Linked DNA regions of Homo sapiens: region 1 is linked to region 2. The links come from fine-mapping of genetic effects on gene expression. A gene starts in region 2. The other region holds a variant in brackets. All regions are shown on one strand. Distances are from middle to middle. Region 1 overlaps PLAUR (plasminogen activator, urokinase receptor). Region 2 holds the start of PLAUR (plasminogen activator, urokinase receptor).

Region 1 (5,367 bases), 21 kb before region 2:
TTGGAGACAGAGTCTGGCTCTGTTGCCCAGGCTGGAGTACAGTGGTGGGATCATGGCTCACTGCAGCCTTGACCTCCCGGGCTCAAGGGATCCTCCTGCCTCAGCCTCCCATGTAACTAGGACCACAGGCATGCCCCACCACATCCAGCCAATTTTTTTTTATTTTTAGTGGAGATGAGGTCTCACTGTGTTGCCCAGGCTGATCTTGAACTCCTGAGCTCAAGAGATCTTCCTTTCTCACCCTCCCAAAGTGCTAGGACTACAGGCATGAGCCACTGTGCCTGTCCTTCCATGATGTTTTGATATAGGCACACAATGTGTTAGTTTATAAAGTTTGTAATAATTTATCACAGGCAGCCCTAGGAAACTAATATAGCCAAGTTTCCTGTTTCTTCTCTATATCACATCTGCTGGGGCTACATGTCCAAGGTGGCTTCTTCACCCACTTGTCTGGTGCCTGGGCTGAGATGGCTGAAACATCTGGGGCTCTATCTCCACATGGCATTTATACATGAGTAGCTTGGGCTTCCTCACAGCATGGTGGTCTCAGGGCAGTAGTACTTTTACATGGCAACCAGCTTCCCCAGAGTGAGCGTTCTAAGATTCAGAAAGTGAAAAATGAAAGTTTCTTAAAACTTGGTTCCAGAACATAGCACAGCAAAACTTCCACCACATTCTACTGGTCAAAGCAGTCACAGAGTCACTCATATTCAAGAGGCAGAAGTACAGACCTCACTTCTTTAAGCCACTACAGTGACAGGTGGTGATATGTCATTAGAGAAAGCCCTAAACAAGAACCTTGTCCCTCACCTGCCCCCAAATACCATGGAAGATGTCTTTTTTTTTTTTTTTTTTTTTTTGGGGATAGTCTCACTGTGTCATGCAGTGGTGTGATCTTGGCTCACTACAACCTCCTCCTCCTGGGTTCAAGCGATTCTCCTGCCTCAGCCTTCCGAGTAGCTGGAGTTACAGGCACCCACCACCTTACCCGGTTAATTTTTGTAATTTTAGTAGAGACGGGGTTTTGCCAAATTGGCCAGGCTGGTCTCAAACTCCTGCCTCAAGTGATCTGCCCACCTCGGCCTCCCAAAGTGCTGGGATTACAGGCGTGAACCACCACAGCCAGCCGAAGATATCTTATTTTTTCTTCATTAGCCACAAGATTTGATGGGGAATGTAATTTTTGTCTCCATGGGTTGCCTTAGCAAATGATGAGAAGAACATGAATTTTTCAATATTGTGCTCCTAGAGTGCCATTGAAATGGTAGTTCTGTCTCTTTTTCTGACAGTCCTGAGGCATCCCGGGAAATAGAGCCCAGCCTTTATCCCCGGTCCCCAGCACATCAGGGGAAGTGCACTCCTGTCCTTATTCCTCACTGCAGTGCATGCAGGGAGTTCTGGCCATCAGGTTATCTTCTATCCGTCTCCTTTCCCAAAGCATGCTGGGAAATGTGGGGATGTCTCCTTAGAACAACAAAATAGTTGCAACCTTTGAAGTTTAGGAGAAGACTAGAAGGTTAGTGTTCAGTGTGTGATCTGGAAGCTTGCATTTGTAAGAATTAAAGAAAGAGGAGGCCAGGCACGGTGGCTCATGCCTGTAATCCTAGCACTTTGGGAGGCCAAGGTGGGCAGATCACCTGAGGTTGGGAGTTTGAGACCAGCCTGAACAACATGGAGAAACCCTGTCTCTACTAAAAATACAAAATTAGCCGGGTGTGGTGGTGCATGCCTGTAATCCCAGCTACTTGGGAGGCTGAGGCAGGAGAATCCCTTGAACTAGGAGGTGGAGGTTGTGGTGAGCTGAGATTGTGTCATTGCACTCCAGCCTGGGCAACAAGAGTGAAACTCCATCTCAAAAAAAGAAAAGAAAAGAAAAGAAAAAGGAAAAGGAAAGAAACATGAAATGTGGCTTGACGGTGAAGGACAGGTTTATTTTAGAGAAAACCAACCTGAGGGGGGCTTTTGGCTGAGTTAGGTTAGAGAGCCCTTTTTTTTTTTTTTTTTTACAGACTAAGGATATTTAAGAGTTTTGGAAGGGGGTGCTTATCTAGGTTCGGAATGTTTTCATGTGAGGAAAAGTTTATTGTGGGGTTGGAAAGTCTCTGGTCGGAAGGGAGGCTATCTGGGGGTTGGCATGTTTCTGGTCAGAGAGGGGTTTATCTTAGGGTTGGAATGTTTCTGGTTATGCTGATGGTAGCCATTAGGCTGATGTTTTGGGGCTGGATTTAGCTGATTTTTTTTTGAGACAGAGTCTTGCTCTGTCACCCAGGCTGGAGTGCAGTGGTGCAATCTCGGCTCACTGCAAGCTCCACCTCCCGGATTGACGCCATTCTCCTGCCTCAGCCTCCCGAATAGCTGGGACTACAGGCACCCGCCACCACGTCCGGATTTAGCCGATTTTTAATCAAGAGGAACTAAGAATGGTGGTGTTTGTTCAAGATGGCAGTGCTCCTGCTCTGTCAGCATTTGGAGTCCAGAAATAGATGTGGAGGCAGCCCCCAGGAGGACTTCCAACCTAGGCAGGGGCCTCAAACATGACCCCTGATTCCAGGAGCCTGTGAAAAGGTGTCCCCCACCATTTATCCTCCCAAAGATAGACACTACAAAGAAGGGCATACCTGGCCTTGTCCACTGGTACAAAATCTTTATGTAAGTATAAAATAAATAATATGAATATTAATTAATAACAACAACACAACAGCGGCAACAATATTAATAATAACAAGAGCTCTCCCATTGGCCCACGGCCTTCCTCCAGCTTTTCTCTTCTGCTTCACACAACTTTGTGAGATAGCTGTTTTCATAGCTGGGAAAACTGAGGCCCAGAGAGGTCGGCACACTGGCCTGAGGTCACACAGCAAGTCTGTAGGGCTGGGAGCCGAGGGAAGGGCAAAGGGGTCCCCCGGATCCAGCCAGGGCAGAGAGGGGGATTTCAGGTTTAGGTCCAGAGGAGAGTGCCTCCCCACAGTCTGGCAGTCATTAGCAGGGTGATGGTGAGGCTGAGATGGGCAGGGCCAGGCTGAGGAGCAGCCCCACTGCGGTACTGGACATCCAGGTCTGGGTGGTTACAGCCACTTTTAGTACAGCAGGAGACATCAATGTG[G/T]TTCATGCTGAAGGCGTCACCCAGGTGGGCATGTTGGCACATTGAGGCGGTTGCACAGCCTCTTACCATATAGCTTTGGTTTTTCGGTTCTGAGGAAAGAGAAGACGGAGTGAGACTTCCAGCTCCTGGGCCCAGGACTGGAATTCTCCAGTAGGTGACCTGCCACCTTGCAGTGGGTGCCACCTTCACTACCACCTAGAGAAAGCAGCAGTTCTCAGGGCCAGGTGTGGTGGCTCATGCCTGTAATCTCAACACCTTGGGAAGCCAAGGAGAGAGGATAGCTTGAGCCCAGGAGTTCCAGACCAGCCTGGACAACATAGCAAAACTCTGTTTCTACAAACATAAAAAAGAAAAAAACAGCTGTAGTCCCAGCTACTTGGGAGGCTGAGATGAGAGGATCACTTGAGCTCAGGAGATGGAGGCTGTGGTGAGTTATGATCACGCCACTGCACTCCAGCCTGGGTAACAGAGTGAGACCCTGTTTCAAAAAACAAATAAAAAGAAAGAAAGGAAGGAAGGGAGGGAGGGAGGGAGGGAAGAAGGAAGGGAGGAAGGGAAGAAGGGAAAGAAAAGAAAGAAAGAGAGAGAGAGGGAGGAAGGAAGGAAGGAGAAGGGAAAGAAGGAAGGAAGGGAGGAAGGAAGGAAGAAAGAAAGAAAGAAAGGGAAAGAGAGACAGAGAAAGAAAAGGAAAGAAAAAAAAAGAAAGAAAGGAAGCGAGCAGCGGTTCTTAAAGTGTGGCTCAGGGACCCCAGAGACCCTTTCAGGAGATCTGTGATTTCACATGGCTTTTTCACTCTCATAAGTGTACAATGGGCTTTTCCAAAAACTCCAGGACATGTGATATTGCAAGAGACTGAAAGCAGAAGCTTCCATGAGGACCCAGCTGTCTTCTATTAAGCTGGACATTAAAGAGATGTGCAACACAGCAAAATAATGCCAGTTTTCTCATTACGCTTTTTTTTTGTTTTTTTTTTTGAGATGGAGTCTCACTCTGTCACCCAGGCTGGAGTGCAGTGGCACGATCTCGGCTCACTGCAACCTCTGCCTCCCGGGTTCAAGCAATTCTTCTGCCTCAGCCTCCCAAGTAGCTGGGACTACAGGCGCGACCACCATGCCCAGCTAATTTTTGTATTTCTAGTAGAGACGGGGTTTCACCATATTGGCCAGGCTGGTCTCGAACTCCTGACCTTGTGATCTGCCCGCCTTGGCCTCCCAAAGTGCTGGTATTACAGGCGTGAGCCACCGCGCCTGGCTGGTTTTTTTTTTGTTGTTTCTTTGTTTGTTTTTTTAAGACAGGGTCTCGCTCTGTTGCCCAGGCCGCAGTGCAGTGGTGCAATCTCCGTTCACTGCAACCTCCACCTCCCAGGCTCAAGTGACCCTCCCACCTCAGCCTCCCAAGCAGCTGGGACTACAGGCATGCACCACCATGCCCAGCTAACTTTTGTATTTTCTGTAGAGACAGGATCTTGCTATGTTGCCCAGGCTGGTCTCAAATCCCTAGGCTTAAGTGACCCGCCCACCTTGGCCTCCCAAAGTATTGGGATTATAGGCATGAGCCACCATGCCTGGCTATCATTACATTTTTTCTTTGGAAACTATACTTATTTTTCATTAAAATGTTATTTATCTTAATGTGTAATGAGTTTTTATTGTTATAAGATGAATTCATAAATAAATCTTTAAAGATTTCTCAGTTTTGGCTGGGCACGGTGGCTCACATCTGTAATCCCAGCACTTTGGGAGGCCGAGGCAGGCAGATCATGAGGTCAGGAGATCGAGACCATCCTGGCCAACATGGTGAAACCCCGTCTCTACTAAAATTACAAAAATAAGCTGGGCATGGTGGCTCATGCCTGTAATCCCAGCTATGCAGGAAGCTGAGGCAGGAGGATTGCTTGAACCCAGGAGGGGGAGGTTGCAGTGAGCTGAGACCATGCCACTGCACTCTAGCCTGGCGACAGAGCAAGACTCCATTTCAAAAAAAAAAAAAAAAGATTTCTCAGTTTTAATTTTAATTTAATTTTATTTTATTTTATTTTTTGGGACGGAGTTTCACTCTTGTTGCCCAGGCTGGAGTGCAATGGCACAATCTTGGCTCACCGCAACCTCTGCCTCCCAGGTTCAAGTGATTCTCCTGCCTCAGCCTCCCGAGTAGCTGGGATTATAGGCATGTGCCACCATGCCCGACTAATTTGTATTTTTAGTAGAGATGGGGTTTCACCATGTTGGTCAGGCTGGTCTTGAACTCCCGACCTCAGGTGATC
Region 2 (5,367 bases):
TCCAATTTTCCATGTCACAAACATTGCTGCTAAGAACATTCGTATACATGTGTCCCTGGGTATATGTGGCCAAGGTTCTTTGGCATTTCTGCATGGCGAGGAGTTGAGCTGTAGCATATGTTAATCTTCATCTGGACTAGATATTGCCGAATCGCTCTAAGTGGTTGATGTGCCAATTTACTCCCCCACCACAGACACGGTCTGCAACTCCACATCCTTACTAACCCGGGTATTGTCAGATTTTTAAATGCTTGCCAATCTGGTGGGTGTGAAATGGGCTCTCCTTGTTTGTTTGTTTTTAGTTTGCATGTCCCAGTTACTGGTGAGGAAGGTTTCTCAATCACTCGCGTTCCATGCTGCGCTGGAGGGGTGTGTGGGTTGGGGGGAAGCTCACCTTCCCACAAGCGCACGATCGTGGTCCTGCAGAGGTCCTGTCCCAGGGCGCACTCTTCCACACGGCAATCCCCGTTGGTCTTACACTGCATGCACCGCAGGCCCCAAGAGGCTGGGGGAAGGAGGGAGAGGAGAGGAGAGGTTAACTACGCTTAGCTCCAAGACCCCCGCTCACCCCTGCATGTCCCAATACCAACACCAAGTCTCCAGGCCCCGTCCATTCAGATTCGTGTCCATGTTCTGCTGGGTTCCGGCCGGCGGTACTTCCAGTCTGTCCGTTGTCCACGTTCTACCTCCACCCCACTAACTGAACGTTCTATCCCTGCCCACAAGTCCTTTCCCAAAGTCCTGCCTTGGCCCGTTTTTCCTTTCATTCTGTCCTCGTGAGGCGTATATCCTGACAGTCGTATCCCCGCCCTCTCTATCAGTACGTTCTATTCCTGCTCCTATTAGGTCTTTCTCACCGCACCGGCCCTCGGTCGATTACGCCTCTCCAGTTCTGCTGGGGACGTTCTAGCCTTGCCCCACCCGCGTCGATCTTTATGTTATACCGTCACTCCCAGTGCCCTAATGGAACTATCCCTCCACTCACTCCCCCTGGTTCTACCCGGCTCCAGAGCCTCTCCCGGCCCACTAATTTATTCCCAAATTCTAGGCCCGGCCCCATCAGCCCTCCGGAGTTTCTATTGTTAGATACTCTAGTTTCCCGCGAAGTTCTGTCTCCGCCCTCCAGCTCTCCAACTAGGTTTTGGCCCCGCTCCAGACTCATCGTCGAGGTTCTAGCCCCGCCCTTTAGCTCTTCCTGACCTTATCTTCCCGCCCCCTAGCTCCTCCCCGATGCCATAACCCCGCCCCTAGCTCCTCCTCGAGGCTTTAGTCCCTCCCTCTAGCTCCTCCTTGAGATTCTAACTTCGCCCTTTAGCTCTCCCCGCCCCTAGTTTTCCCCTGAGGTCATAACTCCGCCCCAGTCCCTTCTTGAGGTTTCAGCCCCACCCTGTAGCTCCTCCCCGAGGTCGTAACCCCCGCCCCTTGGCCCCTTGAGGTCCTAGCCCAGCCCCGTAGCTCCTCCCCAAGCTTATAACCCCGCCCCTAGCCCCTCCTTGAGGTTCCAGCCCCGCCCTCTAGCTCCTCCCCGAGGTTATAATCCTGCCCCTCAAGAGTCTAGTCCCACCTTCTAGCTCCTCCCGAGGTTATAACTCCGCCCTCTGGTTACGCCTCGAGGTTATAACCCCGCCCTCTGGCTCCGCCTCGAGGTTCTAGCCCCGCTCCTAGCTCTTCCTCGGTCTGTAACCTCTCCCGTAGCTCTTCCTTGAGGTTCCAGCCCCGCCCTCTGGCTCCTCCCCGACACTCTCTCCCCGCCCCAGGCTCCGCCCCGAGATTGCAGCCCAGTCCCTAGGCCCGGTCCCCGACCTCCGGGCCTTCCCGGACATCCCTTTCCAGCTGCGCGTTCGGAGTATCCCGGAGCTGTTACTCATTCCCGGCCTCCCGCGGTCTCGAGCGCTTTCCGGGTTATTCATCGCGGCCCCAACACCCTGTGGCCACCCGCCCTGACTCAGTTCCTTCTCGAATTCCTCGACCCAGAGCCCCCCACATTTTCCGGGGAAGTAAGTGAGAGTCGCCTCAGTGAGAGGGAAAGGTCCTGAGGGACAGTCCCGGGTCTCCAGCACTGGCTCTGCGCCGCTCAGTCAGCCTCCCTTTGGGCCTTTTGTAAAAGGGGGTCCTGTCCCCCCGTTTCTCAGAGGGGGAGACCCAGCAGCGTGGAGAGCGCTGGGGGGCGCTGCAGGGTCAGATCCTGCGTATTCAAGCACTGGCTGTGTGATTTTAGGCCAGTTATCTAACCTCTCTGTGCCCTAGTTTCCTCTGCGAAACGAAATTAATAAAGTCCCATCGCCTAGTTTGAAATTGCAAGGAAGAGGCTTCGAAGAACTCCATTTAAAAAAAGAACACTTGGGCCGGGCGCGGTGGCTCACGCCTGTAATCCCAGCAGTTTGGGAGGCCGAGGCAGGTGGATCATCTGAGGTCAGGAGATTGAGACCATCCTGGCTAACAGAGTGAAACCCGGTCTCCACTAAAAATACAGAAATTAGCCGGGCGCGATGGCAGGCGCCTGTAATCCCAGCTACCCAGGAGGCTGAGGCAGGAGAATCGCTTGAACCCGGGCGGCAGAGGTTGCAGTGAGCCGAGATCGCGCCACTGCACTCCAGCCTGGGCGACAGAGTGAGACTCTGTCAAAAAAAAAAAAAAAAAAAAAAAAGCACTCACTAAATTATGTAAAGCTAAATGCCTTTGCTCCACTAATATTTCCTTAGCTACTGAGTGCCAGGTACTGCGCCGCGTGGCGTTGCACAAAGCACGAGAATTACTATTATTTGATTAGGGAGGATGCTGAGGACTGAACCGCATTCCTCCAACTCATCCTCTGACAACCCCCAACCCCCTCAATTAGACCCTGTTCCAGGCGCAGGCGTTCGGGACCCAGCCCCTACCTGGGACGCAGGTGTGGAGCAGCAGCAGCAGCGGCAGCAGCGGCGGGTGACCCATGTCGCGAGGGCAGCTCCTGTGCGCGGGGTCCCTGCACGTCTTCTCTCCTTCTGGCCTCAGGAAGGAGGCAGTTTTGTGGCCCCAGGGACTCCTCCCAGACGTTTTGCGAAAGAGCGAGTCAGCCCCAGATGCGTGGGCGCCTCCCCCTCCTCCCGTACGAACCTCCTCCGCCACAAACTTCCCTTCCCGGGGCGCGGCCGGCTGGTGGTGAAGGGGCTGGCTCGGCCCTGACTCATGGAGTTGTGATCACAGCTCTGTCCCCAGATTGCCTGGGTGCAAATCCCAGTTCTCTCTCTTCCTAACGTGGGACCCGGGGCAATCGCTCTCCACTGCTGTAAAATGAGGATAAAAACTTTGACGGTAAATATGAATGTGGCTGATTATTTGGCTAACAGGATTTTTGTTAGTTTTGTCAGGAGGGATACTGGTATTTTGGAAAATGTCCTTATCTAGAGATGCATCCTGAAATATGCATCTCTTAAACACTTAAAACACTTAACCCTTGCTTTGCTTCCCGCTGTGCCCCCAGCTCCTGGACCAGTGCCCAGCACGAAGTAGGTCCTTGGTAAATGTTAAAGGAATGTGTTGAGCCCTCCATTTTGGCCAGCAGCTATTCCAGGCATTGCACCTACATTAAAACACTTAATGGTGAAACCCCGTCTCTACTAAAAATACAAAAATTAGCCGGGCGTAGTGGCGTGTGTGTGTTACTTAGGAGGCTGAGGCAGGAGAATCGCTTGAACCCGGGAGGCGGAGGTTGGGTTGCAGTGAGCCGAGATCGTGCCACTGCACTCCAGCCTGGCAACAGAACAAGACTCCTTCTCACAGAAAAAAAAAAAAAAAAAAAAAAAGACACTTCAGCCAAAAAAGTAGATATCACTGTTACGACAATGGCTGTATGCTTAGGTGGGATTCTGGTTTTTGTTTGTTTGTTTGTTTTTGCAGATGCTTACTAGAGTATTTAGTGGTGAATGTTATTGATGTCTGCATTTTTTGTTGTTGTTGTTTTGGGGATTTTTGTTTTGTTTTTTCTTTTTCTTTTGTTTTCATTTTGATGTCTGTATTTATTTTATAATATTTTAGAAGAGGTCAGATGAGGTGGCTCATGCCTGTAACACCAATGCTTTGGGAAGCCAAGGCAGGAGGATCACTTGGGGCCAGGAGTTCAAGATCAGCTTGGGAAACATAAAGAGCCCTCATCTTTCCAAAAGAAATTAAAAATAAAATAAAATTAGCTGGGTGCAGTGGCCCGTACTTGTAGTCCTAGGTAGTTGGGAGGCTAAGGTGGGAGGACCGCTTGAACCTGGGAACTGGAAGCTGCAGTGAGCTATGATTGCACCACTGCACTCCAACCTGGGCAACAGAGCGAGACCCTGTCTCAAAAAAATAATAAATAAATAAATACTTGAGTAGAAAATAAAGGCAAAATAGCCAAATGGTTGTATCAATTATATAAAGGTAATCAGTATATAAGGGCATATTATGCCATTCTGTCTCCTTTTCTGTGGGTTTGAAAAGGCTTATAATAAGTTTTTTCTTTCTTTTTATTATTTATTTATTTATTTATTGAGACGAAGTCTCACTCTGTCACCCAGGCTAGAGTGCAGTGGTGCAATCTCGGCCACTGCAATCTCCGCCTCCTGGGTTCATGCAATTCTCCTGCCTCAGCCTCCTGAGTAACTGGGATTACAGGGGCACGCCAGCACACCCGGCTAATTTTTGTATTTTTAGTAGAGATGGGGTTTCACCATGTTGGTCAGGGTGGTCTCGAACTCCTGACCTCAGGTGATCCACCTGCCTTGTCCTTCCAAAGTGCTGGGATTACAGGCATGAGCCACTGCACCTGGCCAAGTTTTTTTTTTTTTTAAGTAAAATAAAATACTAAAGATAAAATTGTCTCCCCGTCTTAGGATGCATCTAACTAAACAGAGCAATTTAATGTAGGTGCAATGCCTGGAATAGCTGCTGGCCGAAATGGAGGGCTCAACACATTCCTTTAACATCTACCAAGGACCTACTTTGTGCTGGGCACTGGTCCAGGAGCTAGGGGCACAGCAGGACGCAAAGCAAAGTTCCCACCTTTTGTTGTGTTGACAGTGGGGAGCAGATATGTGTTATCTAATCTTTCACTGTCTGAGAGGGATAAGCAAACTGGAGAAAACAAAGCAGGCTGAAGGAAGTATCTGGGTGCAAATGAGGTGTGAGCTGTTTTAGGTGGGTGATCCAGGAGGGGTTCCCTGAGCAAGTGGCATTCAAGCAGAGGCTGAATGCAGTGAGGGAAGAAGTAGGGCAGATGGGCAGGGAACCTTTCCAAGGAGCAGGAACAACCAGTGCAAAGGCCTTGAGGTGGAAGCCTGATGAGATTCTAGGAACAGAAGAGATGTCAGTGTGGCTGGAACAGATTAGGAGAGGAAGAGAGTCGTAGGGGATGAG

What was found. PIP is the estimated chance that this variant, and not a neighbour inherited with it, causes the effect.
Region 1: its variant is fine-mapped to the expression of PLAUR in whole blood (TOPMed, PIP 0.93).

The regions. Positions count from the first base shown.
Region 1 is chr19:43,645,952-43,651,318 of GRCh38, forward strand. It overlaps PLAUR (plasminogen activator, urokinase receptor), which reads right to left. Exons shown (of 7, transcript NM_002659.4): 7 at 2,628-3,192. The coding sequence ends at 2,939. Among named protein-coding and RNA genes, the nearest start is that of CADM4, 8.8 kb to the left of the region's middle. The variant G/T (reference allele first, on the strand shown) is at 3,104.
Region 2 is chr19:43,667,187-43,672,553 of GRCh38, forward strand. PLAUR (plasminogen activator, urokinase receptor) reads right to left here and starts at 2,983. Exons shown (of 7, transcript NM_002659.4): 1 at 2,880-2,983; 2 at 395-505. The coding sequence starts at 2,934. It overlaps LOC124904724 (a long non-coding RNA gene), which reads left to right and starts at 1,578. Exons shown (of 3, transcript XR_007067264.1): 1 at 1,578-1,997; 2 at 2,840-3,294. RefSeq lists silencers at 1,482-1,711, 1,752-1,831 and an enhancer at 2,752-3,051.